5 separate regions of the Homo sapiens genome follow, and all the other regions are linked to region 2. The links come from fine-mapping of genetic effects on gene expression. A gene starts in region 2. Each other region holds a variant in brackets. All regions are shown on one strand. Distances are between the middles of the regions.

What was found. PIP is the estimated chance that this variant, and not a neighbour inherited with it, causes the effect. A credible set is the group of variants that fine-mapping cannot tell apart.
Region 1: its variant is the best candidate, but not a certain one, in a credible set for the expression of LINGO2 in whole blood (TOPMed, PIP 0.54).
Region 3: its variant is the best candidate, but not a certain one, in a credible set for the expression of LINGO2 in whole blood (TOPMed, PIP 0.75).
Region 4: its variant is the best candidate, but not a certain one, in a credible set for the expression of LINGO2 in whole blood (INTERVAL, PIP 0.86).
Region 5: its variant is the best candidate, but not a certain one, in a credible set for the expression of LINGO2 in whole blood (INTERVAL, PIP 0.64).

What each region holds. Positions count from the first base shown.
Region 1 is chr9:29,561,394-29,567,694 of GRCh38, reverse strand. No RefSeq gene overlaps it. Among named protein-coding and RNA genes, the nearest start is that of LINGO2, 350 kb to the right of the region's middle. RefSeq lists an enhancer at 227-1,426. The variant G/C (reference allele first, on the strand shown) is at 2,901.
Region 2 is chr9:29,210,347-29,216,647 of GRCh38, reverse strand. LINGO2 (leucine rich repeat and Ig domain containing 2) reads left to right here and starts at 3,047. Exons shown (of 7, transcript NM_001258282.3): 1 at 3,047-3,726. RefSeq lists a silencer at 4,407-4,456.
Region 3 is chr9:29,526,253-29,532,553 of GRCh38, reverse strand. No RefSeq gene overlaps it. Among named protein-coding and RNA genes, the nearest start is that of LINGO2, 320 kb to the right of the region's middle. The variant C/G (reference allele first, on the strand shown) is at 3,600.
Region 4 is chr9:29,300,503-29,306,803 of GRCh38, reverse strand. No RefSeq gene overlaps it. Among named protein-coding and RNA genes, the nearest start is that of LINGO2, 90 kb to the right of the region's middle. The variant T/C (reference allele first, on the strand shown) is at 3,473.
Region 5 is chr9:29,316,876-29,323,176 of GRCh38, reverse strand. It overlaps the pseudogene PDK1P1. Among named protein-coding and RNA genes, the nearest start is that of LINGO2, 110 kb to the right of the region's middle. RefSeq lists an enhancer at 732-821. The variant G/A (reference allele first, on the strand shown) is at 3,527.

The sequences.
Region 1 (6,301 bases), 350 kb before region 2:
TAGGGAGAAGATATTACAACAACTTATACAGGAATCTTGGACCCCATACACATGATTTGGGCACAAACTAACAGGATGATTTTATTCATATCTTTAAACGCCAATTAACTTTTTAACTATCCGAAATGAACTTAGTGTTAAATCATCAAAACATTAGCAAATTACCCTTTATGACTCCCAATAGCTAATGCAGACGTATGGAAAGAAGACGTTTCCTTCTGCAGAGTCAAACTAATATGTTCACCTCCTTAATGCAGGCATAATATAACAAATGATAATTATGGTTTTAGTTAGTGGGTGAACAACTGCAGTGAAATGGAAAAAGTCAGAGGATAGGAACAAAGCGAGCTAGCTCAGAAATCTTTACCATGCCAAGTATATTTAACCCATATTTAAAATTAACCTAAAATAAATTGTGGAAACCTTGGCTATCGTATCTGGCTTAGCCAGTTAGCAACCTTTTCAAATATCTAGATTCTGGTATGTCTGACCAGTTTTACCAGGAATGCTGGCAAAAAAGGAGAAGAAAGATTGGAAATATTTTCTGCTGGGGTTACATTTGTAAGTTATGTTCTTTATGCAAGTTTAGGAAAATTTTAGCTAGCTAGAATGTTCCAGGTAATCAATGTTCACTTTAATATTATTATCTGGAAAATAGTATGCATTTGTTATAAGTTATATAATAAAACTTTTTTTAAACTTCAGAAAATCTTTTTAAAATCGAAGTCATCATTATATAAAATGTATTACACATTACCTGAATAACTACGTATGTTGACTTTCTTCAGAAGTATCATTCACATCATTAATCTCATTGTAAAAGAAAGACAGCTTCAGACAGTTTAATAGATGAAAGTGAATGAGCAACTACTCTTGGTAATTCCCTGACACATGACTAACAAAGCTTAAATTGCCTACAGAAGTTTACTTTCATATGACTTGTCTTTGTTCCAAAAGTAGAGAAAGGGCTGGGCGCGGTAGCTCACGCCTCTAATCTTAACATGTTGGGAGACGGAGGATTACTTGAGGTCAGGAGTTCAAAACCAGCCGGGCCAACATGGTGAAACCCCGTCTCTATTAAAAATACAAAAAAATTAGGGCATGGTGGCGGGTGCCTGTAATTCCAGCTACTCAGGAGGCTGAGGCAGAAGAATCGCTCGAACCCGGAAGGCGGAGGATGCAGTAAGCTGAGACCATGCCACTTCACTCCAAACTGGGAAACAGAGTGAGACTCTGTCTCAAAAAAAAAAAAAAAAAAAGGTAGAGAAAATGTTTAGGCTATATGAATTTTATAATCAATTACATTTCATAGAATGTCTATGTATTTCTAAATTTTAAATATTCTATATCAAAGAACTATAACATTTTCATAAATTTCACAGGATTTCTTTAATCAAATGTTTAACTTTTACACTTTTTAGTTCACAATTATAGAGCAATTTTATTTAAATGTTGAATCTAGAAATTATCATAAATACTATTTTCTAAGGAAAACTTTTCATATAGGAACTAGAAGTCAGATAAATTTTATAAGATCAATACATTTTTCATGAAGCATTATTACATCTACTACCTTAGTTTATTCAGAAATAACAACTCTATTAAGAATATTTAAGCCAAAGGATAAATAATATTTTAAGCAAATTTCATTGCTTATGTACACAGGATAAAATTAGAAAATAAAGTATAAAGCCATACTCAGAAATGTTCCGTTTTCTCATTATCTAGTGATAACCACTCACAACTTCTTCGGTGTATTTCTTTCCATTGCTTTTCTCTGGATGTGTATGTGTCTACACAATGAAGTTTATATTGCATGTAAAATTTATTTTATTCAATATTATATTTACTCAATATCACTATTTTACTCAATATTGTATCGTGTCTGTTACCTTATGATATTAACATTTTCTCAAAATACCATCTCAAGTGCTACATAATATTCTACTTATGGCACATATAGACATGTCATAATCCATTTAAATAGTTCTCTAAGGATGAACATTTATGATTCAAATATTTTCTATTGCAAATAATGCTATAATGAATATCTTAGAACCTAAATATAATATTGCCTATTGATTTATTATTTAGGATATATTTATAGTGGTATAGTTTTAATAAAAATTTGAATTAAATATTATAGAAGTGTTAAAAAGCTTCTCATAGGTCTTTAATATTACAAATTTTCATTAAGGTACTGTAATCAATGTTTTGTATTGAAAATTAAATACATGAAATTATTATGCATGCTAACATGTCTTTTTGGTAGTTTAGATAAAATGAAGGGAAATCAAATGAACTCATATATAATTTGTTGATTAAACAGTGAGTTTCACTGTGTGGCTTTGTAAAAGTTACTTAACTTGTCAGTGCTTCAGTTTTCTTATTTAAATGAAGATTACAATAATAGTTTATAGAACTGTGCATGGTACAAAGTAAGAAATGATAGATAAATAGGCAATGAGTTATAGCTATTATGATTGTTTTACTTATTGTTGAATCATTGGTCTGATGCCTGTAATCCTCAGGTTTCTAAGAGACATGAATAATTTCATTCTTAGCAAATACATAGCTTTTAAGATTTCTACCCAAACGATTCAGGATTGCCTTCTTTCTGCTCATATGTAATATAATGAAGGGAAAAAATATTATCTATTAAAGCTAAGGCTGAAATAAATGCTGTATAACTCTGAGTAGGAGATAGCAAAGAAAATGCATCATCTGGCCTTTCCTTTATTAGCAGTAGTGAGATATAAAGGCCTTTGCATCATAGTCGCTCCTTGAGGGAACAAAATAAAGCTAAGGAAATGGAACCTTCCTCCTTACTGGTCCTCATGATTTATGACTATAATAAACCTGACTACACAAAAGCACACATTGTTTCAAGGAAATGCTAA[G/C]TGTCATCTCAACACACCCAAAAGCCTGCTCTTCATAAGAAAAAAATGTTACAACAACCAGTGATTCACTTCCCTAATCATTTGCTTACAAGAAGCATCCTACTGTGTTCATCATCAAGAAACACTATATTCCTTTGACTATCTCCTTAGGAAAGAGGGTGGGGAACAAACACAGAAGAAAAGAGTAAAGTGAGAATGAGGCTCTAGAGCAATAGAGAGCTTTTGATGAGGAGGCCAAAATATTGAGTCTGTCACTGTTCTGCTAGTTGGGAATTTGAGGCAAACTACTTGGCTTCCATCTTTTTAGCTATGAAAAATTAAGTGATTGAAGTAAACGATTTCTAAGGCCTTCTCCATCTACAACATTCTTGAAATTTGTATAATCTTATTAATAATAGAGGCCAGCATGGCTGAAATGGAAGCAAAAGAGTGAAGAAGTTAAAGTACATCCTTCAAAAATTACCCTGCTGAGAAAATTAACATTGAACACAGTAACTGTAATTATGAGACAAACTGCAACATTTGACACCAGTGATCACTTCAGCTTATTTTCCTCTCTTGATTTCTACTCTTTCCCCGTCTCTTCTGGTATTTTGTTGTACTTTCTTTGTTCTTCTCCCCCAAGGTTTTAAGTAAAGAGACTGATAAATTATCTCATTCAACCCCTCCTCTGCATTGTTCAACCTATGCAAATGCACCCATCAGCTGAAATGAACATAATGAAAGAGACAGCTAAAAGACTAGTTTAATATGCTAATGAATGTTGTATTAGTTCATTTTTACACTGCTATTAAGAACTGCCCAAGGGTGGGAAATTTATAAAGAAAAGAGGTTTAATGGACTCTTAGTTCTGCATGGCTGGGGAGGTCTCAGGAAAATTACAATCATGGCAGAAGGGAAGAAGTCACATCTTATATGGTGGCAGGTGAAAGAATGAGTGCAGGGCAAATTTCCCCTTTTTAAACCAAGAGGTCTCATGAGAACTCTCTCACTATCATGAGAACAGCATAAGGGAAACCACCCCCACAATCCAATCACCTTCCACCAAGTTCCTCCCCTGACATGTGGGGATTACAATTTGGATTAAAGTTTCAGATGAGATTTGGGTGGGGACACAGCCAAGCCATATCATTCCACTCCCAGCACCTCCCACATCTCATATTCTCACATTTCAAAACACAATCATGCCTTCCCAACAGTCTCTCAAAGTCTTAACTCATTCCAGCATTAACCCAAAAGTCCAAAGTCTCATCTGAGACAAGGCAAGTCCCTTCCACCTAGGAGCCTGTAAAATCAAAAGCAAGTTAGTTACTTCCAAAATACAATAGGGTTACAGGCATTAGACAAATGTTCCCATTCCGAATGAGAGAAGTTGGCCGAAACAAAGAGGCTACAAGCCCCATGCAAGTCCAAAATCCAGCAGGGTAGTCATTAAATCTTAAAGCACCAAAATAATCTTCTTTAACTCCATGTCTCACATCCAGGGCATGCTGACGCAAAGAGTGGGCTCCCACGGCCTTGAGCAGCTCCATTCCTGTGGCTTTGCAGGATTCAGGCCCTACTGCCACAATCATGGGCTGGCATTGAGTACCTGAGGCTTTTTCAGTTACACAGTGCAAGCTGTTGGTGGATCTACATTCTGGGGACTGGAGGATGGTGGCCCTCTTCTCACAGCTCCTCTAGGTAGTGTCCCACTGCCTAATGGAGTAGTGAGAAGGGGACTCTGTGTGAAGGGTCCAAACCCACATTTTTCCTCTGCATTGCGCTAGCAAGGTTCTCCATGATGGCTCTGCCCCTGTGGCAGACTTCTGCTTGGATATCCAGGCATTTTTATACATCCCCTGAGACCTAGGCAGAGGTTCTCAAACCTTAATTCCTGACTTCTGTGCACCCACAGGCCCAACACCACATAAAAGCTACCAAGGCTTGGGGCTTGCATCCTCTGAAACAATGTCTCGAGCTGTATCTCGGCCCTTTTTAGCCAAGGCTGGAGCTGAAATGGCTGGGACACAGGGCACCAAGTCCTGATCCTGCACAGAGGAGTGGGGTCCTGGGCTTGGCCCATGAAACCGTTTTTCCCTCCTAAGGCTTCATGCCTCTGATGGGAAGGGCTGCCTCAAAAATCTCTGATATGCCCTGGAGACATTTTCCCCATGGTTTCAGCTATTAACATTCACCTACTAGTTACTTACTTTATGCAAATTTCTGCAGCCACATTGAATTCCTTCCCAGAAAATGAGTTTTTCTTTATTAGCACAGATTCAGGCTGCAAATTTTTCAAACATTTTTGCTCTGCTTCCCTTTTAAGCATAAGTTCCAGTTTCAAACCATTTCTTTGTGAGCACATAAAACTCTAAGCACTTTCAGAATAATCCAGGACACCTCTTTAATGCTTTGCTGCTTAGGAATTCTTCTACCTGATACCCTAAATCATCCCTCTCAAGTTCAAAGTTCCAAGTTCCACACATCTCTAGGGCAGAGGCAAAATGCTACCAGTCCCTTCGCTAAAGCATAGCAAGAGTGACCTTTAGTCCTGTTACTAACAAGCTCTTCATCTCCATCTGAGACCACCTTAGACTGGACTTCATTGTCTATATCACTATCAGAGTTTTGGTCAAAGTCATTCAACAAGTCTCTAGGAATTCCAAGCTCCCCCACATCTCCCTGTCTTCTGAGCCCCCCAACTTGTTCCAGCCTCTGCTCATTACCCAGTTCCAAAGTCACTTCCACACTTCCAGGTTATCTTTATAGCAGTACCCAACTCTACCAGTGCCAGTTTCCTGCATTAGTCAGTTCTCTTACTGCCATAAAGAACTACCTGAGCCTGGGTAATCTATAAAGTAAACAGGTTTAATTGACTCACAGTTCTGCGTGGCTGGGGAGGACTCAGGAAACTTACAATCATGGCGAAAGAGGAAATAGGCACATCAAACATGGTGGCAGGTGAGAGAAAGAGAGTGAGCACAGGGCAAACCATCAGATCTTGTGAGAACTCCCTCACTGTCAAGAGAACAGCATGGGGAAATTGCCCATCACCTCCCACCTGGTCTCTTCCCCAAAATGTGGAGATTACAATTTGATATGAGATTTGGGTGGGGACACAGCCAAACCATATCAAACCTATCTAGAAGAGTAGTGAAAAGAAAACAAAAAAATATAGATTGGAGTTCTACACTTCTTTTAGAAATAATAATATATGAAAGTATGGAATTATACATAGAGAATCAAATTGCAAATTTGAAAACATTCCTCTGAAGACTAGCCATTTGAATCAGAGAATAGAGATGGTCAGTATTTTAATAAGCATAGAAATGACAACTTGCCTGGCAAGTCAAAATATTAAATATAAGGATGTTTTTGTTTTATATATCTTAGTTTAGCATATGGATCCTCACCACAGA
Region 2 (6,301 bases):
GGGGAACAACAATGTAAATGACAAGATCCGTGCTCTCAGAGCTCACAGTACAGTAGCAAAGGCATACCAGTAAAGAAAGAATAGCTTTTATCTATGAAAAGACAGTACACCAATAGACTGAATGCTATGCTCTAGAGAAGTAAAAGGTGTTCTGAAAATGGCAGTTTGTAGAGAAATGATCTTAAGGAGGGAAAAGGATCAAGATGTTTCCATTGGAAGAGATATCATATATTTCAAATTCAATTATCAGAAAACATAAATACATAGACAACACTGGAATAATGCTGTAGTTATTTTAATTTGGTGGTGAAATCAGATTCTTGGATCTGACAGTATCTTTGAGTCTCAATAGTTTCTTTTCAATTCCATAGATAGACCTAAGGGTAGCGGGAATGGGGTACATCCTCTGATCCTGAGGTTTGCTCTCCTTGTTTGTTAAATAATTTCCCCCATAAAAGCAAAATGTAAAAGGCGAGGGGGAAAAGGGTGATCCTTATCCTCTTCCATTTTTTGAACAGGATCCATAAATCTACAGGTTTTTATTATTTTTTTTGAGGGTGCTTAAATGTCAAGAATATTATGCTATGGATTACCACTACTGCATACACATCGCATACATCAAAAACTCAAAGCAAGTAAAAAGACTTCGCCATGGCTGGTACAAGACTTTCCACAACATTTCCTACCACTGTAAGGCACCCTTCACGTATTAAAGTTAATGAATATGTAAATAACCTATGTTTACTTTAAACAGAAACTTCAGTTGCAGACAGTGGCCTGCATACCAACAGCAACCAAGAAAGGAATTTGAAGTCACAACCTTTTTGGAGAGGAGTCGCTCTAAATTCTGAATTTTCTTGAACCAAGTGAGTCTCTTCATTACAGCTCTGCAATTCATGCCTAATAGTCTGCAGAATATTTTATTGGTAATTGATAGGCTTATACAATCAGAAATCATAAGTTAAAGATGGCCTTTTGTTGGAAATAGTTTATTATAATTCTTATTCCCACTTCATTATCAGGAACAGTCATTTATTAATTAGGAATAAGAATTAGAACTCGAAGAGGCATCAAATATTGCGGCACGCAGACAATGTATAGATTCATACCAGGTTCCAAAATACTGCCGAACATCCTCCTCTTGAAAGGCTGCAAAAGAGTCACTGTCGAAGATACATTTTAGGACATCAAACCTAAAAACTCAATCCTGGCAAACTAATACACACGCAAACAAAATGCCTCTTTTTATTCCTTAGCACCTCATCACCGATTTCATTATTCACTTCTTCAGGCAAGCTGCGCGGGTTAGCTTCAAGCTCTTCCCTTAATTGCACCAGAAGTTAAGTCTGGGCGTTGGACATACACACTCTAAATCCTTACGCGTGGGTCTGTCTGTGAACAGCCCGGAGCAGCGGAGCAAGTTAGTGGGAGGGTATCGCCAACTGTCTGCTCGCTCCAAGTGGCAGCCTTCATGGATCCATCACCCCTAAACCCACAGCCCCTGTCACTGCCTCTGCACTGAGTCGGCTCAAACAGAATCCAAAGCAGGTTCATCCCTGAAATTCAGACTTGCGCCTGAAGTTACCGGTCCGGAGCCCCTGGGAGCCGCAACGCTCACTGTGGAATGCTCTGGATCGATTTCAGAGCTGTGAGTAGCGCTGCTAGAGGTCATCCTACAAGTTTCATCTTTTGTATTAAATCTTCACTTCTGCGCTCTGCGACTCCACGTTTGCCGCTCAGGAACTCGGTTCCCGGCAAAGTCAACCGCCTTCCAATTTGGAGAGGGACAGTCAAGAACTCCCTTGATTTTGAGGAGATTCTCGATGGAGACGGCGGCGGTGGGTGGCGGAGCGGAGCATCCAGCGCCAGAGCAAAGGAACCTGGTGCCATCTCCAAGCTGGGCAACTTTGCGTTTTCCGCTAGCAGGTCCGAAGCCATAGATATTCGCGAAGCCCCAGAGGGCAGAAATCCTCAGCAATCCTCTGTCTCACAGTTGAAAAGGCAGAGTAGCGCTCTGTTGCAATAGAAACTACGCGGAGCACAAATGCAAGCTTTGGTTAAAAAAAGCACAAAAAACAAAAAAACAACGGGCAAAAGTTTACTCTCTGTAAGCAATTAATTCCTGCAGCCCATTCCGGGTAAAACAAACTCCTCTTGGGAAGCTCCTTTCGTGGGAGTTGTGGATGACACGGGGGCGCTTCTGAGAGCGAAGTCTCTCCTGCCTGGGACGCCCCAGCGGTGTAGCACCCAGTGATCCCTCCCGACCGTCGAGGGAAGAAAAAGAAGTTGGGACAGGAGCTAGCCAGAGACCCGGACAGCTACTCCTGGTGCAAAACCTTGGAAATGGCTGCTAAAGGGGTTGGGTCTCCAGACTCCTAATCCCTCCCCTTTCTCCAGCTGAGCCGTTCACCTGCTACCGTCCAGTTTACAATATAAGCGTAGCACCTAAATTAACCCAGTTCCAAAAGCTAGGCACTACAATTCCCTAAGAAATTCATTTTCAAAACATCTAAGCGACTTTCGGGAGCTCCTTGGGGGAAATGTTACGAAGGGAGTGGGCAGGTAAAGACGGGATGCGAGGGGATTATGTTCACGAAGCGATGTGTAGGCTCCTCTATTCGAAGGACCTCGGGGAGCCCCTCAGCTCCCAGGAGAGCTGCTGCAGCCACTTCAATTCTCCACTACAGAAGGGGCGGAGGTGGCCCCTGGAGGGTGGCGATGGGAACGGGGCTCATCTTTAGTCTGGTGGCCTCTCGCTGGGTGTCGAGGGGGTGTAACTGGCTTCAAGAAAAGAGCTAGGGAGTTGAAATGCCAGACAGGGCAGAGAACGGAGAGGTGGCCCAACGGACTTAACGGCGTGCGGCGAGGAACTGCCTGCCGGCAATCCGCTAACTAGTGAGGATTGATTGACTCTTTCTGTCATCAGCATCCTTGGAACCCCTACCCCTCCTCAGGACTCCCGACTTTTCGCTCGCCACTGGCCGGGGGCCGCGGGCGCAGGGCTGGGCGTGCGTGTGTAGCTGCGCGCGCGCGGGTGTGCGCGCCTGTGTGTGTGCGCAGCCCGAGCTCTGAGCCCGGCTGCCAAGCCCCAGCCGGCTATCCTGCGTCCCGCCTTGCAGCCGCCTCCTCAAAGCCTCCTCACCTGGCGCCGCCGCCCGCCGCCCGCCCAGCCCCGCACCGGCGCTGCCTCCCCTGAAAGTTTCCCCAGCGTAGACACCTTCGCGCTGCAGCAGCCCAGGGAGACGGTGTTCCGAAGCTGTGCCTTGGAGTGGCTCTTCTTACACCTTTCCGCCTCATCCCCACCTAATTCGGGCAGGGAGTAGAAATTTTTCCAAATTAAGGGGAGAAAGGGGGGAGGGGCATTATCGAGAGAAAGCAAGAGGAGCGGCCGCAACTGAGAATATCCTGCCTGATGCCAGGGAATTGACTGACGTGTCTGTGGGGTTACGGAAGAAAACTGAATAGGCAGCCAAGTTGGCCCAGGAGGGGCTGGGAGGCTTCCGGGTGCCGGGAAGGTGGTCCCGGTCTCCATTTCCACTGGTACGAAGGCTTGGAGGCGCCTCTATGGTGAGGGCTTTTGAACCGCCATCCCCTCCTGATCCCTTGGAAAGGAGGAGCCTTCAGAGCTGAGGAGGGGGAAGTCCAGGAAAAGCCCCTGGACTTGTGTGCGTCGCATCCTTGGCTTGGGATTTTAAGGACACGAAGGAGAATTAACAGCGCCTCAAGGTAAGAGGCAGCAAAGCTGCTGCTTGAATTGCCAGAGACAATAACTTAAAATAGATGTTGGGGATGGGGTGGGGGTTAAGTCAAGTTAGGAGGATCTCTCCGGGCGTCGCTACGCGATCGCACGACCCGCCTGGCAAGTCAGGGAGTAGCCGGTGCGGCGCTGCCCAGCTGCGAGGCAGGAAGCCAGAGGAGTGTCCTGTCCTCACACTTTCTGAAACCTATTGGAAAACGATTTCGGACTGGGTTCTCTGTGGAGGTTGATATACAGCGTGGATTTGGGTTTTGGGTTTTCGTTTTTTTACCAGAGAGGTTTTTTTTTTAAATTTTTATTAGCACCGCAGACCCACCCCCAATTGCCATAGAGAGCTGTGGGCACCGGTGAACGCAACTAGGACGCGGTGGCAGGTGAGCCTGGCGCAGGTGGGCAGGTGGGGGCGGCGGCGGCACCCGGCCTGCGGACTCGGGGGCGCGCGAAGCCCACGCTGCCGCTTGGCCGGCTCCCTGCAACCGGCGTCGGAACCTGGGCGCCGCAGGTCGCCTGCTGTTCCCTTCGCCTCCGCTAGAGGCTCCCAGCGGGCGCCGCGGAGCGGGTGGGTGTGGGGGCGCCAGGAGGCGGCGGGGTGAGCGCGGAGAGCCAGCGTGCTCGCGGGGTGGCGGAGCCCGCGCGGCAGGGGCGGGGGACGTGAGCGGCAGTCCCGGCGCGCTTCCGAGCTCCGCACCGCGCCGCGGGGACGCAGGTCCGAACCCGGCTGAGCTCTGGAAAGCTGTGCCTTGAACTGGAGCCACTTCGGGGATGAGATCCTGACCCGCACCCTGAGGGCAGCCCCGGGAGGTAATGCCCTCTTTCTCCTCCACTCTCCTTTCGCCTCTTGGTTCTCTGTAAATTCTCAGTCAGATACTCAGGGTGGGAGGGAGTGAAGGGTGAGAGAGAGTCTATAGGGTCTGTATCTAAAAAAGGTGCCTTTCAGTGTTGCTCCGTGGTGCTCTGTTGTATGTGTATTCGAACTAATGCCCAATTTCCCCCGCCTCCCTTGAATATTTGGCTGCTTTAAGGGAAGTTTTTTGCGGAGAACGCTGGGTGGTTGGTCTGGGCCAGGCTGCTCCGAGGTGAGCTAGGGGACCTGCTGTGCCCGCTTTGAGCCGCAGTAGACTGGAGTGCAAGACTCCAGGGATGGGGTGTGGTGGAGAAAACGAGTACCACACCCTCTTCTTTTCCTCTTCACCTGCTGGTGAAGTCTCCCCATTCAGCATTTTGCTGATTTCCTTTTCCGAGGGATTGGCTCAGAGAACTGAGGAAAGCTGCTGAAATACTTGGAGGGAGGGAGGGAGAGAGAGAGAGAGAAGAGAAGAGAAGAGAAGAGAAGGATGAGAAGGAAGTCATGGTCTGAGCATCAGAAGAGGAAGGAGGGCGAAGTTAAGCTTGTGTGTTTGAGGTGGGGGAGTGAGTGCTGGGAAATGGCCTTGGAGTTCAGTTTATTTGATGAAGTCAGATTCACTTCACATTTCACACTTTGACATAATCCAGTTTGCTGAAGCCACCTAACAGATATTATCTGTGCTGTGTACTGCCTTGGGCTCAGTGGGCACTGAATATGTTTGATGAGTGTGTCTAAGCAATAGATAAATAAATAAATGAAAGAGTGCTTATTGTGTTTGCTTGGTGTGATTACCCCCGTGTCTGTCAGCCGGTAATGTATGTATTTTTCAGCGTGCTGTGCTGTGTTTGTGCATACCATATGTGGTCATTTTACACTCAGTAATGCAGTTTCAGGGTCTTGGAAAGGTGGCTCTTAACAAAGACGAATATTTAGAATAATACTAAAGGAAGACCAAAAATTACCATCGGGTGTGGAATATTCCAGGAATACTGAATAGAAGCTGAGATCCATCATTGGTGAAAATATTGGGCCACATACTGAAAGGGCAAAAAATATTTTTCAGAAATTAGAAGCAGTGGTTAACATTTTAAAAGAAGGAGATGTTCTTTAGGGTTCTGTCACCATCACCCAGTAGCATGCGTTACTCCCAATACAGTTGGAGTGTGAGGAAGAAAAAAAAATGTACTTCCTGTTCAAAACCAGTAAAATGTTTTGAGATCTGCCAGGTATTTCACCTTAAGAATTTAAATGGAATGGATTGCCTATTGATGGCAGAAGTGGTTTAGTTATGTAAGGCATCTATTATTTTTGATTAAGGTACATATATGTTAATATTTTTATATAATTTTACTGTAGTGGGAATGGAAGCAGGACAATTTATTGATGTTTTTCATTGCTGAATAACACATAGCATTATCTCAGGGAAGATTTATATAAAGTTTGTCATTCATGTATTATAGTGGATGATGCTCTGTGTGGAAGGCAAGAATATATATCTTGATGAAGTCCCAAAAAGGATCGTTTGTGTTCTTAAAATACAGTATTTTAGAAATTTTTATGGTGTGAAAAAGTGATACTCATCTGAATATAGGTACAACTTATATATACACTAATCATTTATTTGTTGAATTAAATTAACAAAGACATACATATTTAGGGCTCAAATGTATTTCTGAAAGACACCTCTAAAACCAAAG
Region 3 (6,301 bases), 320 kb before region 2:
ATGGGAACACTATCTTATATGCAATCTGTTGTTGACCAAAATGTTGACTACCTAGGCAAATGTGTAAAAGAAGGATTAACATATGTGAGAACTCTGAAGTAAAAAAAAGGCAAGGGAAAGCAAAACTAGGAAGAAAATGAAGAAAGTCACTGAAAGAGTCAGAAAGTGGAGATGTGTGAGACTGATTTTAAAAAGTAGAAGGAAGTACATGCACCTGAAATACAAAGACCTAAAAGAAAACATATAAGTAGAGAGAGGAAGGACCCAGCCATGAAGTCTTGTAATCCATTAAAATGATTTTGGTTTATAGCCTAAAGGTCTATATAAAACTCTAAAGTATTCTAAGCAGAAAAAATAATAATCAAGTTTATAGTTTGTAGTTTTTATGGTCTCCTCATGGAGAATGTATTAGCTGGAGCCAAATGTACCTATGAAATAACTTGTGAAAAGTATATGACTATCTTTCAGGAAGAGCTGATAGTAGCCTCATTTAAAGTGGCGGTAGTAGTGACAAAAAAGAGAACTGAGCAAGATATCAGAAAAATGGTCGGGTAGGGAATTTCAGGGTATACTGTCCCCCAAGAAATATGTGCCCCCCTAAAAACTATAAACTGGTAAAAGTGAATTTACTTTACCAGAACTCTGGAAGATGGTCAAATGTTCATAGCAATAAATAAAATGTTCAATCATGAGAAAGACTACTTAAACCTAGTGGAAAAGCTTTGAGGAGTTTTAATTTACCCTTGTCACACACAATTCCCTAGTGTGATGGCAGTCCTGAAATCAGCAACCTGCATTCCTGGTGTGGGTTCCTGGTTCTGTAGGCAGCAGAACAGACCTTATTCCAAAGGAATCATGTTTGTATATTTTGACCTGCGTGAGTCTGCCTAAATGACTGACACAAGAGGCTTGACTTTATTTTGCCTAACTCAGATCTCTGTTAGGGTGAAGAAACAAATTTGGGAAGGAAGCGCCTTCAAACAATCAAAAAGCAGATGAACAAGCCTCTGTTACCTGGAGCAAGAGATAACAGTTGGGCAAAAAATAGACATGCCAAAAGCTTTGAAGGAAAGGTTGTGGAGTAAAACACTTCCTAAAATACGAGCTTTAAAAATCTCCTGCATATACTGGGGAATGTGGAAAACCAAGAAACAAGTAGAATGGAATGCAGGCTCAAAAATGATCTGAGACTCCATAACCTTTCACTTCTGGCTCATGTATATGTTCAGCAGAAGTAGGAAATGAAGGGTCAGGTAGCATCAGAAATAACCAACTAAGCATGGAAGGAGTGACCAAAACAGAGTCAATAGGCAAAGATTTTAAAAATGTGTTTTTTTTCTTTTCATTATAAATTTCTTACCCCAGAAGGATGAAAAAATATGTTAAACCACTAGCTAACCACTTCACCAAATTAACCAAGACTTCTGAGACTATACATAACAAACGAATTCAGTCTTCAAAAAATAGGTTACAACTTAAAGTAATCAATAATACCAAATCCTGAGGTGTGGGGAGAGTTTCATTTTCAGATATACCAAATCATAATTATACAAATGCCCCAATTTAACAAAAAATTATGATGCCTGCAAAAAAGAAACAATAGCCCTTTCACAGAAGAAAGAAAACCCAAAGAAACTGATAATAATGGAGCACAAGTTTTGGTACTATAAAAACATTATAGGCTGGGTGTGGTGGCTCACACTTGTAATCCCACCACTTTGGGAGGCCAAGGCAGGCAGCTCATGAAATCGGGAGATCAAGACCATCCTGGCTAACACAGTGAAACCCTGTCTCTACTAAAAATACAAAACATTAGCTGGGTGTGGTGGCACGCACCTGTTGTCCTAGCTACTCAGGAGGCTGAGACAGGAGAATTGCTTGAACCCAGGAGGCGGAGGTTGCAGTGAGCCAAGATCACACCACTGTACTCCAGCCTGGGCTACAGAGCGAGTCTCTGGAAAACAGAAGAAAAAAAAAAGACTATAAACCCACTGTCTCAAATATGCTTAAAGGGTAAAGGACTAAAGGACACTGGAAAAAAAAAAAAAAAAAACTAAAGAAAACTAGAAGCACAATGACTCAACAAATAGGGAATCAATACAATGATAGCAATTTAAAAAGGAACCAAAAAGAAATTCTGGAGTTGAAAAGTACAATAACTAAAACGCAAAATTTACTAGAAAAGCTCAACAGAAAATTTAAGCAAACAAAAGAAATAGTCATTCAACTAGAAGATAAGACGATTGAAACTGCCCTGAGGAGGCAAAATAAATTTTAAAAAAATAAATAATATTTAAGAGATCTCTGGAACACCATAAAATGTACCAATGTATGCACAATGGCAGTTTCAGATGGGTAGGACAGAAAGAAATGAGCAGAAAAAACATCTTTGAAGACATGATAATAAAAACTTTCCAAATATGAGGAAAGACATGAGTCTCTACATCCAATGCATTCAATAGTCTCCAAGAAGCATAAACTCCAAGAGATCCGTACTGAGTTATAGTCAAAATGGCAAAGGACAATGACAAAGAGAATCTTGAAAGTAGTAGAAAATAAGGAAGTCAGCAAGTACAGTTGATTCTCACTAACAACCAATTTTTTGTAAAAATCCATAAAGGCCAGAAGGCAAAAAGATGATATTTTTAAAGTATTGAAACAAACAGAAAGATCTGTCAATCAAAAATTTTATGCCAAGCAAAACAATCCTAACAAAACAGTAAATAAGATATCTTCAAATAAACAAAATATGAAGGCATTTGCTACTAGTACACATCCTCTATAAAACATGCTAATGAGAATCTTTCAGGCTGAAATGAAAGGCAGCAAATATTAAATCAAAATCATGCAAAGAAATGAAAAGAAACATTAGCAAAGGTTACCACATAGGTAAATATAAAATACAGAATTATTTTATTTTTGTTTTATATTTCCTCTTATTTTCCTATATAACATAAAACAATAATTCTAAATCTATGCTAATGAGCATATGGTCATTTTCAAAAATACCAACATATAGGAGAAGTAACAAAGATGTAAAGGAGCAGAGATTTTATATGTCATTTTAACTAAGATGGTATTAATTTAATAATAGGCTACTTTAAGTTTATTATGTTAATTGTAATCAGTGAGATAACCACTGAGAAATGAAATAATAGATAATATACAGAGAGGAATCAAAACAGTACAATACAAAAAATCAATTGAACACAAAAGAAGGCAATAGTGAAAGAATTGAGGAACAAAAAAGATATATGACATATAGAAAACAAATAACAAAATGGTGCGAGTAAATGTTTTCTTAGAAATAAATGATATAAATGTAAACGGATAAAAATCTCCAGTTGAAGTCCAGAGATAGGTAGAATAGAGCAATTATATGATACATCTATATGCTGTGAACAAGAGACTCACTTTGGATCCAAAAATACAAATAGTTTGAAAGTAAGTCATTTTTCAAAAGCATTCCATAAAAAATAGTGATGAAAAGAAAATTAGAGTGCATATAGTAATTTCAGGTATAATAGATATTGTCAATTATTGTTTGCAACAGTCAAGGCCAATCCACCCATAATAGATAGCAATTAAAAACATATACC[C/G]ACGCAAAAACATGGCCCCCAAACATATAAATAATTAAAAATGGAGAAAAGAAAGAAGTTCTATAATAAGATTTCATAGTCTCACTTTCAATAACAGGTAGAAAAACTAGCATAAAAATCAGCAAGTAGATTAAGATTTGTACAACCCTATAAACCTGTTAGAACTAATGGGCATATACAGAATACTTCACCCACATAACAAAAGACCAAATATTAAGTACATGTGGAACCTTTCCCCAAATAAACCATATGTTAAACCACATAACAAGTCTCAATAAAATTATATAGATATTAATTATACAAAGGAATCTCCTCTGACTATGATGCTATGAATCTAGAAATTGATAACATAAGAAAATTGGGAAACTTCAAAATATATGTAAGTTAAACAATACACTCTCAACAATGGGTCAAAGAACTTACCACAAAAGATTTTAGAAAATGTCTTCAGACAAAGTAAAAGGAATAAACAACTTGTAAAAATGTAGAGTTTTAGTAAAACCCATGCTCAGAGTAAAATTTATAGCTGCATATACCTATATTAAAAAAAGAAGAAAGATCTCAACTCAATATTCTAACTCTACACCATAAGGAACTAAAAAATGATAAGCAAACTAAATCTAAAACTAGCAGAAGCAAGGAATTATCATGATTAGAGCAGAACTAAATGATTCAGAAAATAAAAAATCAATAGAGAAAACCAAATAAGTCAAATGTTTGTTCTTTGAAAAAGTTTGATATAATTGACAATCATTTATATAGATTGAGAAAGGAGACTCAAATCATTAAAGTCATAAGTGAAAGTGGACATATTACTACAAAACCTGTACAAAATAAAATGTAAAATAATGTTTTGGACAATTGTATGCCCACAAAATAGGTAAATAAATGAAATGCACATATTTCTCCAAAAAACATGAATTACCAAAGCTGAATCAAAAACACATGGAAACTATCAAGAGATCCATTATGAGTAAAGAGATTGAATCTGTAATAAAAACTCTTTAAACAACGACAATAAAAAAGGCCAGGACCAGGCATTTTAAATGATGAATTCTTTTAACCATTTTAAAAAGAATTAGCACCAATCTTTCCAAAATCCTTCCAAAAATAGAGAAGGAGGACAAAGTTTCTAAATCATTCTATGAAGCCAGAATTACCCTGATACCAGTACCAGAAAATAATATTAGAAAAGAAAATAGCTCACCCATATAACTAATGAATATAGATGGAAAACTTCTCAGCACTATATTATCAAAACAATTCCAGCAGCATATTAAAATATTTATGAATCATAACTAAGATTTATTCAGAAATGCAAAGATGGTTCAACATATGGAAATTAATGGCATATATTTTACCAATGAAATTATGAATAAAAATTACATCGTTATCTCAAGTGGTATAGAAAAAGCACTTACAAAAATCTAATACTCTTTTTTGGTTTAATTTTAAAACCTTTAACAAATAAGAAATAGAATGTAACTGCTTCAAAGATAAAAAGCGTCTTTAAAAAATCATTGCTAACATGCTAATTAATAATAAAAGCCTGGAAACTTTCCTCCTAAGTACGCCATGGATGACTGTTTGGCCAGTACTATTAAACATTTTATTGGAAATCCTAGCCAGAGGAAGTAGGCAAGATAAAAAATAAAAGTCAATTTAAATGGAAATGGAAAGTAAAAATTGGAAGTAAAACTATGTATATTCATAGATGGCATGATCTTATATAAGGAAAATCTTAGGGGAAAAAAACCTATTAGACCTAATAAGCAAATTTATCAAAGTTGCAGAATATAATACAAACACACAAAAATAAATTGTGTTTCTATACAATATCAATGAAGAATTTGAAAAGAAAAATTAAGTTCCATCCACAATAGCATCATGAAATAAGATACTTAGGACTGAATTCAACCAAAGGCATTCAGGACTTACACACTGAAAATCATAAGACATCACAGAAATAAACTGAAGTTCTAGGTGAATGAAATCTTGAATTGCAAAGGAATTTGAATGGTCAAAACAATATTGAAAAAGAAAAACAAAGTGGGAGGACAAACACAAAACTTTTGTAAAATTTCCTACATATTTACAGTGATCCAAACAGTATGGCACTGTCACAGGATAGACAATATTGATTAATGGATAAGACTGAGATTCTAGAAATAAATGGTAAATCTACAGTCAACTTATTTTCAACAAGGTTGCTAAGGCTGTTCAATGGGAAAAGAATAGTCTTTTCAACAAATTTATGTTCAGACAAATGGAAATCCACATGCAAAAGAAAAAAGTTGGGCCCTTGCCTCACACTAAATACAAAAATTCCAAATGAATCAAACACCTAAGTATGAGAGCTAAGCCTATAAAACTCTTAAAGAAAAACATTTAGGCAATTTTTCACAACCTTAGATCTAGCAATAATTTACTAGATATGATACCAAGAGCACAAAGCAACAAAATAGAAAACATGAATACATTAGACTATCGATTTTTTAAAAAATATGCAACAAATGACAGTATAAAGAGTGAAAAGACACGATTGTCTTTGGGATAAAATATTTGAAAATTATATCTCTCAAAAAGGTTTAGTATCTAAAATATATAAGGAATCCTTACAACTCAGCAAGAATAGAACAACCCAATTAAAAATGGGCAAGTGAATTTAATAGACATATCCACAAATTGTGGATACGTGCTAT
Region 4 (6,301 bases), 90 kb before region 2:
TTTAAGTTTTAGGGTACATGTGCACATTGTGCAGGTTAGTTACATATGTATACATGTGCCATGCTGGTGCGCTGCACCCACTAACTTGTCATCTAGCCTTAGGTATATCTCCCAATGCTATCCCTCCCCGCTCCCCCCACCCCACCACAGTCCCCAGAGTGTGATATTCCCCTTCATGTGTCCATGTGATCTCATTGTTCAATTCCCACTTATGAGTGAGAATATGCAGTGTTTGGTTTTTTGTTCTTGCGATAGTTTACTGAGAATGATGATTTCCAATTTCATCCATGTCCCTACAAAGGACATGAACTCATCATTTTTTATGGCTGCATAGTATTCCATGGTGTATATGTGCCACATTTTCTTAATCCAGTCTATCATTGTTGGACATTTGGGTTGGTTCCAAGTCTTTGCTATTGTGAATAATGCCGCAATAAACATACATGTGCATGTGTCTTTATAGCAGCATGATTTATAGTCATTTGGGTATATACCCAGTAATGGGATGGCTGGGTCAAATGGTATTTCTAGTTCTAGATCCCTGAGGAATCGCCACACTGACTTCCACAATGGTTGAACCAGTTTACAGTCCCACCAACAGTGTAAAAGTGTTCCTATTTCTCCACATCCTCTCCAGCACCTGTTGTTTCCTGACTTTTTAATGATTGCCATTCTAACTGGTGTGAGATGATATCTCATAGTGGTTTTGATTTGCTTTTCTCTGATGGCCAGTGATGATGAGCATTTTTTCATGTGTTTTTTGGCTGCATAAATGTTAGCTCAAGAGATCCCTCTAGGGTGGTTTGAGGCTGTTAGATCTGCATAACAGCTTGATTTATCCAAGCCCATTTGCCAGCCCTGCTTTCTTCCCCTCTCTCCTATGGGTGTTGACCAAATAGCTGCTCCCAAACACTAAAATTTGTGTCAGTGTCTGCTTCCCACAGAACCAACACTGTGAAATTCATCAATAATGACAGTAACCAATAGGAAAAATTTTTTAAATGCAGTTGAGTGGCAGATTGGGAGGAGAAAAGGGAAATAAGGTACATCTTTCAGTTCCAAGATTTCCAGAAATCATAATAATTTCTTTTTATGTCACATAAATTCCCACATATATCTTCACCTCCTTGTAAACAAATTTCCTTTTTTTTCAAGCTTTTGTTGTAACAAATCTGTTTATCTTCCTTGCCTCGCCACTTCTGTTTTGTGTTTTACATGCTAATCTCCAGTTCAAAGATTCCCTTAGTATTTTTTCCCTGTGTTCATCCTGTTCACTTACTTGTATTGAATAAAAAGACTCAGGAAAATAGATTAGCCATTTCTATCATGCAATGCATCCCCCTTTATCTGGAGAATTAAAACATTGTTGTTCCATATCAGTTTCTTATTTACATCTTTTGAAAAAGCAATTGAATGATTTCTGCACAAATTAGATGGGGATTTTAATATGGCACTTGGCATCATTTCAATTCATAAGAAATTAATTCCTTTACTGCAAACCTCAGAATTTGTCCCATGTTTGATCTTGTTCATTTATGTTGTAATAGACATATTTACTATGACCTTTTAAATTATAATGATAATAAAATAGTTACAGTTGAGTACTTACAATGTGGCAAGGTTTGTGCTAAGTGTTTCAATAGCATTACCTAAAATAATCCTTAAAATAACAACTTAAAGTAAACACTATTATTATTTTCTTCTTATGGGTAAAGAATCTAAGTCTAGGTAGGATACTTAACTTACTGCTATGGTTAGGCTTTGTGTCCCCACCCAAATCCCTATAATCCCCAAAATCGCCACGTGTCAAGGGAGAGAGCAAGTGGAGGTAACTGAATCATGAGGGTGGTTTCCCTCATGCTGTTCTTGTGATAGTGAGTGAGATCTCAGGAGATCTGATGGTTTTCTTTTCCCTTTGTTCAGCACTTCTCCTTCCTGCCACCCTGTGAAGAAGGTGCCTTGCTTCCCCTTCTCCTTCTGCCATGATTGTAAGTTTTCTGAGGCCTCCCCAGCCCTGCTGAACTGTTAGTCAATTAAATGTCTTTCTTTTACAGATTATCCAGTCTCAGGCAGTTATTTATAGCAGTATAAAAATGGACTAATACACTTACCCAAGAACGCAATATGTGTGACAGTTCTAGGGAGACAGCCCAGGTCTGCCTGATACAAACCCATAGATAAAGCTAGTAGACAACACTACAAGAAGTCACCAAATGGCCAGCTAAGATCTAAAATACGAAAGTCTAGGAAAAGTGAAAGAATAATGTCAAGGTATATACTTTTGTATAATTTGACATTCCTAATGACAGGGTCAAGCAAGCTAACAGAAGCATCTGTATTAAAGAGCAGTGGGACAGTAACAATTGACCAGTCTATATACAGTAACATATGCCTGCTAATTAACATACATAACTTACTCCTTAATTATACTTCTATTTTTGTTTATTAGAGATCATTGTCTCAGTAAGGAAGGAAATCATTGTCAAGACTAATGCTAGTAACCCTTGAAATAAGTTAATGTCATTTCTTGTTGAAAAATACTATTCATTTGAATTGAAATAAACATTTAAAACCATAGGAAGTTGATATGGTTTGGATTTCTGTCCCTGCCCAAATCTCATGTCAAACTGTAATCCCCATTGTTGGAGGAGGGGTCCGTGGGGAGGTGATTGGCTCATGGGGGCAAGTTTCCCCCTTGCTGTTCTCATAATAGTGAGTTCTCATGAGATCTGGTTTAAAAATATGTGCACCTCTCCCTTCACTCTTCCTCCTGCTCTAGCCCTGTAGGAAGTGCCTGCTTCCCCGCTGCCTTCTGTCATGATTGTAAGTTTCCTGAGGCCTCCCCAGCCATGTGGAACTGTGAGTCAATTAAAATTCTTTTCTTTATAAATTACCCAGTTTCAGGTATTTCTTTATAGCAGTGCAAGAACAAACTAATACAGAAGTATTAGAAGAAAATGAGCATCAATTAAACATTTATAACAACATCTAAATAAGTATCTAAGGTTACCATGATACCTTGAGAAGAATATGAAGAGTAAAAAATAATTATATCACTAATTCATTCAAAAACCTTTCACAGAGCATCCTCTGAATATAAAATATTTTATAAATTATTTTATTTAATCCTCATAACAATACTTTAAGGTAGATATTACTACCTCCTTATAAATACAGAAACAAAGCCTTAAAGACTTTAAGCAATGTGCCTGTGGTCATACAGCGAGGAAATAGCAGATCTGGCCTTACACTGAGGCTTGTCTGGCTCCAGAGCCTGTGTTGTATGAGTGTTTCCTAGTAAGGTAAATTCACATGAAGTCTAGTGAGAGCAGGTAAAACAATCCCTAAGCAATCTGCATACACCATTCCTCCTCTTCCTCCCAAGGACAATCTATGGGGAAACTCTCATGGGCAGAATGTCACACTGTAGGGCAGAATGTCACACTGTATGGCAGAATATCAGCTTAAAAGG[T/C]CAATAAACTTCACAGTAAAGCATTCTACTCATCCATGGAAAATAAATTGCTATTTCTGCTTAGTAAACAAAAGAAAGCTAATTTATGATGTTTACATTTTGGGTAAATTTTCTCAGAACCTAAAAGTTAATAATATATAAATCATAGCAGTCTGACCAGTTATCATGTTTTCTAAAAAGGTTTTTTAAATGATGTTAACAAGAAATGAGAGCTTTAAGCACTAAGGGAAACCAAATAAATATGAATCAAATGAAGGAAATACAAAGAAGTCAAACTAAGGTGATGAGGACACAAATGAGTTATGCTATGAGGAGAATATCTAAGAATAAAGGGTGCTGCCGTAAAAACCCAAGGAATGAGCCAGTCTGCAAAGGCTAGAAGCAATCAATAATTAGCATGATGTAAGAAAGACTGACTAGGAGAAAACTGAGAAGGAACCCTTAGAATGGATTCTCAGGAAAGATTGCTCTGACTATTAAACTGTGAGTTTTTAGAACAATCTATTTACCACAGGAAGCTGTGAAACTGCCATCATTTAGGACAAACAGGCATTAGACTCTTAGAACCACTAAAAGCAAGTGCTAGCAGATACATTAGTGGGAAATGAAAAAAGTCACCTTCCTATTGCTTACTCCTTTCTATACAACTTACAAAGTCTTCTTTGTCCTTGGCTGAAAGTTCATGTTTGTTAAAAGATGCATATTTTTACCTAGTTGACTGATTTATACTCCTTTTGAACTCCAGAGTTTCTGCAGGACTTGCTTAACTCTCTCTAAATGTCATGAAGTGTCACAGGTGTTGAGCTTGTGATTGTGACAGAGACTTTTTTTGAAAACATACTCTCATTATGGAAAAATCAGAATATACAGACAAATAATTCAATATTACCAATATCATAACCACCCAAGGATAAATATAGTAACATTTCAGTGAACAAACTTTCAAATATTTCACACTTGTGTGTGTGTTAACATAGATTTGTGTTTATGAAGATTATCATTATACTGTATAGACTCTTCCATAATTTGCTTAAATTAACACATGAAAATTATCACCCACATAATTAAATTGTTTTCTAAGTATTTTTTTAAATTTTATTATATTTTAAGTTCCAGGGTACATGTGTAAGACATGCAGGTTTTTTACATAGGTAAATGTGCGCCATGGTGGTTTGCTGCACCTATCAACCCATGACCTAGATATTAAGCCCAGCATGCATTAGCTATTTTTCTTGATGCTCTTCCCCACTCCGCCCTCCCCCAACAGTCTTCAGTGTGTGTTGTTCCCCTCCCTATATCCATATATTCTCATTGTTCAGCTGCCACTTATAAGTGGGATTATGTGGTGTTTGGCTTTCTGTTTCTGTGTTAGATTCCTGAGGATAATGGCTTCCAGCTCCATCCATGTCCCTGTAAAAGACATGATCTCATTCCTTTTTGTGGCTGCATAGTATTCCATGGTGTTGTATGTACCACATTTTCTTTATCCTGTCTATTATTGGTGGGCATTTGGGTTGATTCCATGTCTTTGCTATTGTAAATAGTGCTGCAACAAACATACACATGCATGTATCTTTATAATAGAATCATTTATATTGCTTTGGGTGTATACCCAGTAATGGGATTGCTAAGTCAAATGGTATTTGCTGTTCTAAATCTTTGAGGGATTGCCTCACTGTCTTCTACAATGGTTGAACTAATTTACATTCCCACCAACAGTGTAAAAGTGTTCTTATTTCTCTGCAACCTTGGCAGCATCTGTTTTTCTTGAGTTTTTAATAATCGCCATTCTGACTGGTGTGATATGGTATCTCATTGTGGTTTTGATTTGCATTTCCGTAACGATCAGTGAGGTTGAGCTTTGTTTATATGTTTGTTGACTGCATGTATGTCTTCTTTTATCTGTTCATGTCCTTTGTCCACTTTTTAATGGGGTTTTTTTTTCTTGTAAATTTCTTTAAGTTCCTTGTAGATTCTGGATATTAAACCTTTGTCAGATGGAGAGATTGCAAAAGTTTTCTCCCATTCTGTAGTTTGTCTGTTCACTCTGATGATAGTTTCTTTTGCTGCACAGAAGCTCTTTAGTTTAATTAGATCCCATTTGTCAATGTTTGCATTTGTTGCAATTGCTTTTTGCAATTTCATGATAAAATCTTCCATGCCTATGTCCCCAGTGGTTTGCTAGGTTTTTTTCTAGGGTTTTCATAGTTTTGGATTTTACATTTAAGTCTTTAATCTGCATACACAGTATTGATATATAACTATAAATTATCTATTGCTGGACACTAGACAGTTTCTAATTTCTTACTATTGTATATAATGCCGCAATGTCTACTTTTGTACCTAAGTTTTTGTCATAGCTTTAATCACTTCTTTAAGAGAAATTCTGGAATTGTTGGGTCAGTTTGCATATTTAACTAATTATTTAAGAAACCTGAGAATAGAATGTACCTTTCTCCTGAAAGTAGTACATTGTAGGGTCTGGAGTCAAGAACCATGGGCTGATTCTATGTGGCTCACTTTCCTATCTGTAATATGGAATTTATAAAATTACTTCATACAATCATGGTGATTATTTAATACATGAAAATATGTAAAATACTTAGAATAGTACCTATCAGAGATGAAACTCTCACAAATGTTTGTTTTATTCTTCTTGTTATTATTATTATTACCATGATTATTTCCAAATAACATTATCATCAAAAGTCATTTACCTTCAACCTAGATGACAATATTATCACAAAAATAGTTATTACTATTAAATTTGAAATTTAATAGAAGGGTGAAGTGGATCGTGCCTGTAATCCCAGCACCCTGGGAGAATAA
Region 5 (6,301 bases), 110 kb before region 2:
CCACCAAAATTTATATGTTGAGACCCTAACCCTCAGTGTGGATGTATTTAGAAATGAGGCCTCTAAGATAATCATTAAGGTTAAGTGAGGTCATAATGGTGGGGCCCTGATCAAATAGGATTAGTTTCTTTATAAAAGTAAACAACAGAGTTTTCTCTCTCTTTACCTGCATACCCACCAAGAAAAGGCTATGTGAGAACATAGTGGGAATGCAGATGTCTGCAAGCCAGGAAGAGAGAGCTCTCCCCAGAGGCCAACCCTGTTGGACTTTGATTTGGAACTTTTAACCTCCAGAACTACGAGAAGATGAGTTTCTATTGTTGAAGCCATTCAGTCTATGGTAATTTGCTATGATAGCCCCAACTGACGAATACATCCATTCAGATATGGTAAAATTTGTCACAATTTTGGGGTAGACACAGCTCAATCTCAGTAATGGATGAGTCATGTGCCAATGACTCAATAAAATAGGAGCAGCTGAGATTAGGAGCAGAACATTGAGTTGGGAAAGGAGAGAGAAGCTTGGAAGAACTTAGAAATGCTTATTAGGGGCTCTTAGGGACGTGAGAAAAAAAAATGATGATTTGTAATGGCTGAAACTACTTACTACCATATCCTGAAGGTAAACACAATGTTCATAATATATAAACTGCCCATGTTTTAGAGAAAAAAAGTGGTTAGTAACCAAGTGCTGAGGTGGAGTTGAAGTCTGCAAAATACCACATGCTCTGAGCAGCAACTTGACTCAGAAGTTCCACCTAGAAACCGAAACCAAGTATGTTGCTTTCTCAAAGATAGACAAATATAAATGACCTCAAAAAGGATGACTTTATGCCAGTGAAACAGACTGTCCACTTTTATCAACTGTTTCCAACTATCCTATTAAGATCATATATGGGTAGTCAAGTGTTCTACAAAAAGAAATTAAGTTTGACAAACTTTCCATACTACTATATTTCCAAATTAAAGATTCATTTCCTGATAAATTAACTAGGACACAAATGCAAGTTTGAGAAAATTACTTTGGAGCAGATATGGATGTGAATTTATTCTCTTGAGTAATATTTATCAACTCATCTTTAAAATTGGTCATGATCCTGCATGTCAATAGTGTAAACTTTATAGTTCACACTATAGTTTACAGCAATTAAAAGGCATTAATATTTACTCTTCATGATATTCCTAGGGGAATTCTACAATAATCCCATTGAGGCTATTTTCTATACCTAAAGGTTATTTATCTATTTGATTTACAAATGGATACTCTTATATAGCTTCAGGCTTTATAACATTTACATCATTGGATAAAAACCCAAAGAAAAACGCAGCATCAATGACAGCAGCACATGGTACAATTTTAGATTTTGAAATGATCTATCAGTTAAGAGGCGTTGATTTATAAGCAACAGAAAACTCAAGCACAAAGTGGCTTAAAAATTAAGGGCATTAATTGGCCTAGGTAAATAAAAGTAAAGAGGCCAACCTTTGCACTTAATTTACTTGAAGGACCACAGAATATCATCAAGAGATAGCTTTTCTATAGCACTCTGCTTTACCTTCAGTAATATTACCATTATTCCCAAACTGCCATTTCTTTCAGTTACAAGTTGAAAAGTTATACATTTCTTCTTCTTTTTTTTTTTTACATCAATTAGGTAAGAAAGGCTCACTTCCAGAAACTTCCTGATAAGCCAGAAGATCCCTATTTTCCATCACATCATAACAAATATTTTATTTAGTCTTGTTGGGCCAAACTGAGTGAAGAATGACAAATTTTTCCCATTTTTTAGATTACTGCCATATGGAAAACATTTTGTAAAATATTTTGTTTCCGTTTCAATATATTCATTTAAAAATGTCGTAGTGCTAGAAATTAATGATGTTTAAGTATGAATTATGCATTATTGATTATGCAGAACATTTTTTTCTATCCCCTCCTTTAAAATGTTGCCACATTCATTAGCTGTCCAAGTTTTAAAAAATCACATGGTATCCATTTATTATTCTTCAATACATTTTTATATCTGCAATGGATTAATCAGGTACTGGTGAATATAATAACTTGAGAAGAATTTAAACATTGAAATGTTTCAGGGAGCACAGTGATTTAAAACCAACCAGGAGAAAAATTCCCTCAAAATATTGTTTTATATAATTTTCTGTCTATTACCAGAGAGCAAAATAAAAACAGTAAACAGCTTGTAAAGAAAAATAGAAAATATTTCTCTTTTGCTGCTCCTTTGAAACCACCATTATTATTAGTGTTCAGGTAAAGAAAGTAACACTTTAATTTTGGGAATGGTGGAATCCTTCATAAGTAAAATAATAAACTTTATCTCAGTTGTATGACATCTTATTTAGAAAAGAAGATTTCTTCAGTTCAAAGTATTATAAAAAGGTTCATTTTTGCATGAAAAGTGAAATTTAAAGTTAAAAAATTAGCAATTTGAACTAACAAATCACCAATTAGCTCATTTTAGTATCTTTAACAAATCCATAATGATGGAAAAATAGAAAAGATGTTATTTTTCCAAAAATTGTTCAGATTAGCTATGAATTACTATGCAAACCATAAAGCACTCTGAGCCTTAGAGTCTTCACCTATAAAATGAGGGAACATGATTAAATGCCCTTTAACCTCCCTTCCAATCTACCAATTTAGGTAGTAGCATTACCATTTTAAATAATCCTTTAAAGAGTGAGGGTTTCACCTCAAAGTATTTTCTAAATATATGAAATTCCCCTTTTAAGTTGCAAACCTTTGCTATCAACATTTACAAGAAATGCATTATTACTTTCCTGTCACACTAAAAGAGTGTGAGGTATCACCCACAACACCGTCCCCTGACTTCACAGCTCTGCCTGTAAAACATAGCACCAAATAGAACAGATCAGCACACATAGGCTTCTGTACCTTGGCTCAATTATCTGTAATTTTGAGACAAGCTTTGCTTCTCAAAATGAGGAAGATAGAAACGTTCCTGTCTATCTTTCACTGTTTTGAAGACCAAAAGAGATTACCATATCGATGCAAATGATTATCTTTGTGATGAACAATTTTGACTTTTCCTGATGAAAAGATCTAGAGACTATATAACATATATCTTCTTTAAGGGCACTTATACATTTATGATTTAAATCTTTCAGTTTACTGATTATTCTGTAGTCATTTTGTTTCTTTTCTAACTTGCTGCTTTGTCCTCTAATTGCATCAGCCTGGGATACAGTTTGTTTCTCCCCAAGAGTCTAGAAACCTGACCTTTCAAAAAGTGAAAGTGAAAACCTATAGATCTCTCTGTTACTTTAGCAAATTTGGTATTGCCATTAATTTTAAAACAATGGCTTCCTAGAGCAGGAAAACTTTTTTGTTGTTGTTTTTTCTTGAGATTCCTCCACTCCACTCCAGCCCTAGAAATTCTGATTGAGTATATCTGGGCAGGATAAAGGAAATTTCTGTTTCTCAAAACTCCCTAGTTAATTCTGAAATTGGTCAGTTTGGGAACCACTACTTTGTTCTCTGTTTTAG[G/A]CCTACTATAACATTTTCCTCCGACATTAATCACAACACATTCAGAGTAGATTTTCAGAAATCTGTAGAGAACTACTGTAACAATCTTTTTCAGGAAAATTTTAAAATGGTATATTAACTGCAGAGCTAAGACAGTTCAGGTAGACACTGAAAAGTGGGTGGCTGTTCCTCATGGGAAAATTGTTTTCCACTTTACTTGTAATCATTCACTGGTAAACACAAAGACTATCTTATAACAATTGTCATTACTAACTATAACATGAAAGTTCTCCAAATAACAAAAAGATGGCTGAGTAGTTAATTGGTATTATTGGGAAAATGTGTCTCGTAGACTAAATAAAAGCATAAAATAAACTGCTTTCTATAGAATTTCAAACTTTTCTCATGCCTCTGGAGTTTACCATAAACAGGACAGAAAAGTTAACCAAAAATACTATTATTGAAAAATAAGCTCAGTTAGCTGCAAGAATATAAGTTAAAAAAATACGTATAATTTTCTCTTTGAGGAGTTTTAAGACATGCATAGATTTCAAATTCCATTTATTATACCCAGAATAACTAATTATGAAAATGATATTTAAAATATTTGGTATCAAGTATGGACACCACCCCTTCCAAACTTAATATAAAACCCACATTTTTTTTCTTAGGTGTCCTAGATGTCTGTAGCCACTGAAGAATGTTTTTATACCTCTTTGTTGTCTGCTTGGGCTGCAAGCATAAGCCTCATGGTTGATATTGTCCTGCATCTACGCAGCTGTCTTATATAATGAGGAGTCTAATGTGGACAAATACATCTGCCACATAACCCTCTAGGAGACATAGCTTTGGTTCTCATTGAAATATTATACATCAAAGCATTCGTTGGTTAATCCATAATTCAAACCAGCCAGGAGTGCTACTCCAGATATTTCTGCAGGAATCTACATGAATACATGTGGTTGAAGAATCTGTGATTTTCCTTCAGAGGCACAACACTTCAACAAACATTCATATGTGTCCAATCCTAACTACCTGCTATGACATGAACTTGGATAGAGGGTTAAACACATTTTGTCAGTATAGTGTCCCATGATTGCTCTCATGTCACTTAAAAAGTTCAAACTCCCTATGAGAAAGACAAGTGGTACAAAAACCACTTGGATTAGCTGTTCTGGTGATTTGCACTTAGTTCTCCAACTTTAATTTTAGGAGAAATAATACAAAACAAATTGCACAGATCGTTAGCATTTTCCTAGCCATCTTTTAATAATTTTAGCTAACTTGCAATTTATATTAAAGCTTCCAAAGCATTTTGATTGGATGGAATTATCTTGTTTTTGCCACCATAGAATAAAGAATAGCAAGTTGAGTAACCTTACAATCAAAATGCAACTCATATCGAAATATCCAAAATGTAGTTAACATTCTGGCTGGTGGTGGGAATATCCCCAAAGCAATCCTGTATATATTTTATTTTTTTAATTGACAAACACAATTGCATTGCATATTTCTCATGTACAACATTTAATCACATTCTGAGCTATGCCAATGTCCTTGTGTCTTACAGATCCTTATCACCATGTCTATGAAAAAAATAAAGACCATTAGCACCCTCAGCATTTTCGTCCTTAAAAATTAAGCAACTTCTGAAGACTTCTAATATTCCAGCTCTGTATCAGTTGAGCTGATGATGATGTTCTGAGATTATCAGAAGGAGACTATTTCTTTAATTATATTTGCTATTCCCATGGCCAACCCTGGCCTGAGATATGTGAATGAGGTCTTCTCAACCCCTCTCCCAGATCCAAAAGTTGGCAAGAAGCATGTGTAAAAGTCAAAAGGCCATATATTTCATTGAGCAGAGGGCAATTACAAGGACCCAAATGAGTCCTCAGGGTCACAGCCATTGCTGGGGGAATAAAGATTCCGAAGGTGCCACTGGGGCTTGGTGCTGAGATCCCTGAAGCTGCCATCCCAGCCCTCAGTGAACCCTACACCAGGAGCCCAAGCCACCTGCAATTGGTTGCCACCCTTCTTTGAACCAATAATGTCTCCAGAAGATGAGTTTATGCTGAAATATTTTAGCCTGAGCTATAAGCCCTGTTTTTAGAGTCAGGAATTAGGTTTACCAGAAAGGATCCCCAAATGAAAACTAGGACTATTACCAAACTTAATGGAGTGGATGAGAGGGAATAAAATGATTTCTGCCAAAAATGGGTTATTGGTTTATGATTGAGCTGAACCTGGTATGGTATACTCAGGAATTTTCTCCTGCCAGTGCCTACCAACATGCTTTGTAATACCTCGGTTGTCTATCGTTGAACAGCATCTTGACCAGACCTCCTATCTCATCTCTTTCTACATCCAGTGAACTCTAAAACAAAAATTCTGCTTCAAATCTGGCTCACTGCTCTTCCCCTCTTGCTCGTCTCAGGCCCGCCTCATGGCTTGTAGACCTGCCTGTGGGGAAAGGAGTTGTAGAGTTGGTTTTACTTTCCAATTAACTTTTCTGTTCCTTCCCACCTGTCTTCTACATCCAGCATTGGGAATATGAATAGGAAGAGAGCTTTGAAGGAAGAAGGACAAAGCATATGCTATGTGTCAAATGTTTTGTTTTTGTTTTACTTTGTTTTGTTTGTTTTGTTTTTACAATGTGGCTCTCGGTGCCCTCCAACACAGTCGTCATCCAAAAGCTAACTTTCTATTTTAAGGCCCATTTGTGTGTTTTTTGGAGTGTCCCCCTTCCCTCCCTCCCTTAAGGGAGTTTTGCACTGTCCCCTTCTCTAACTTTTT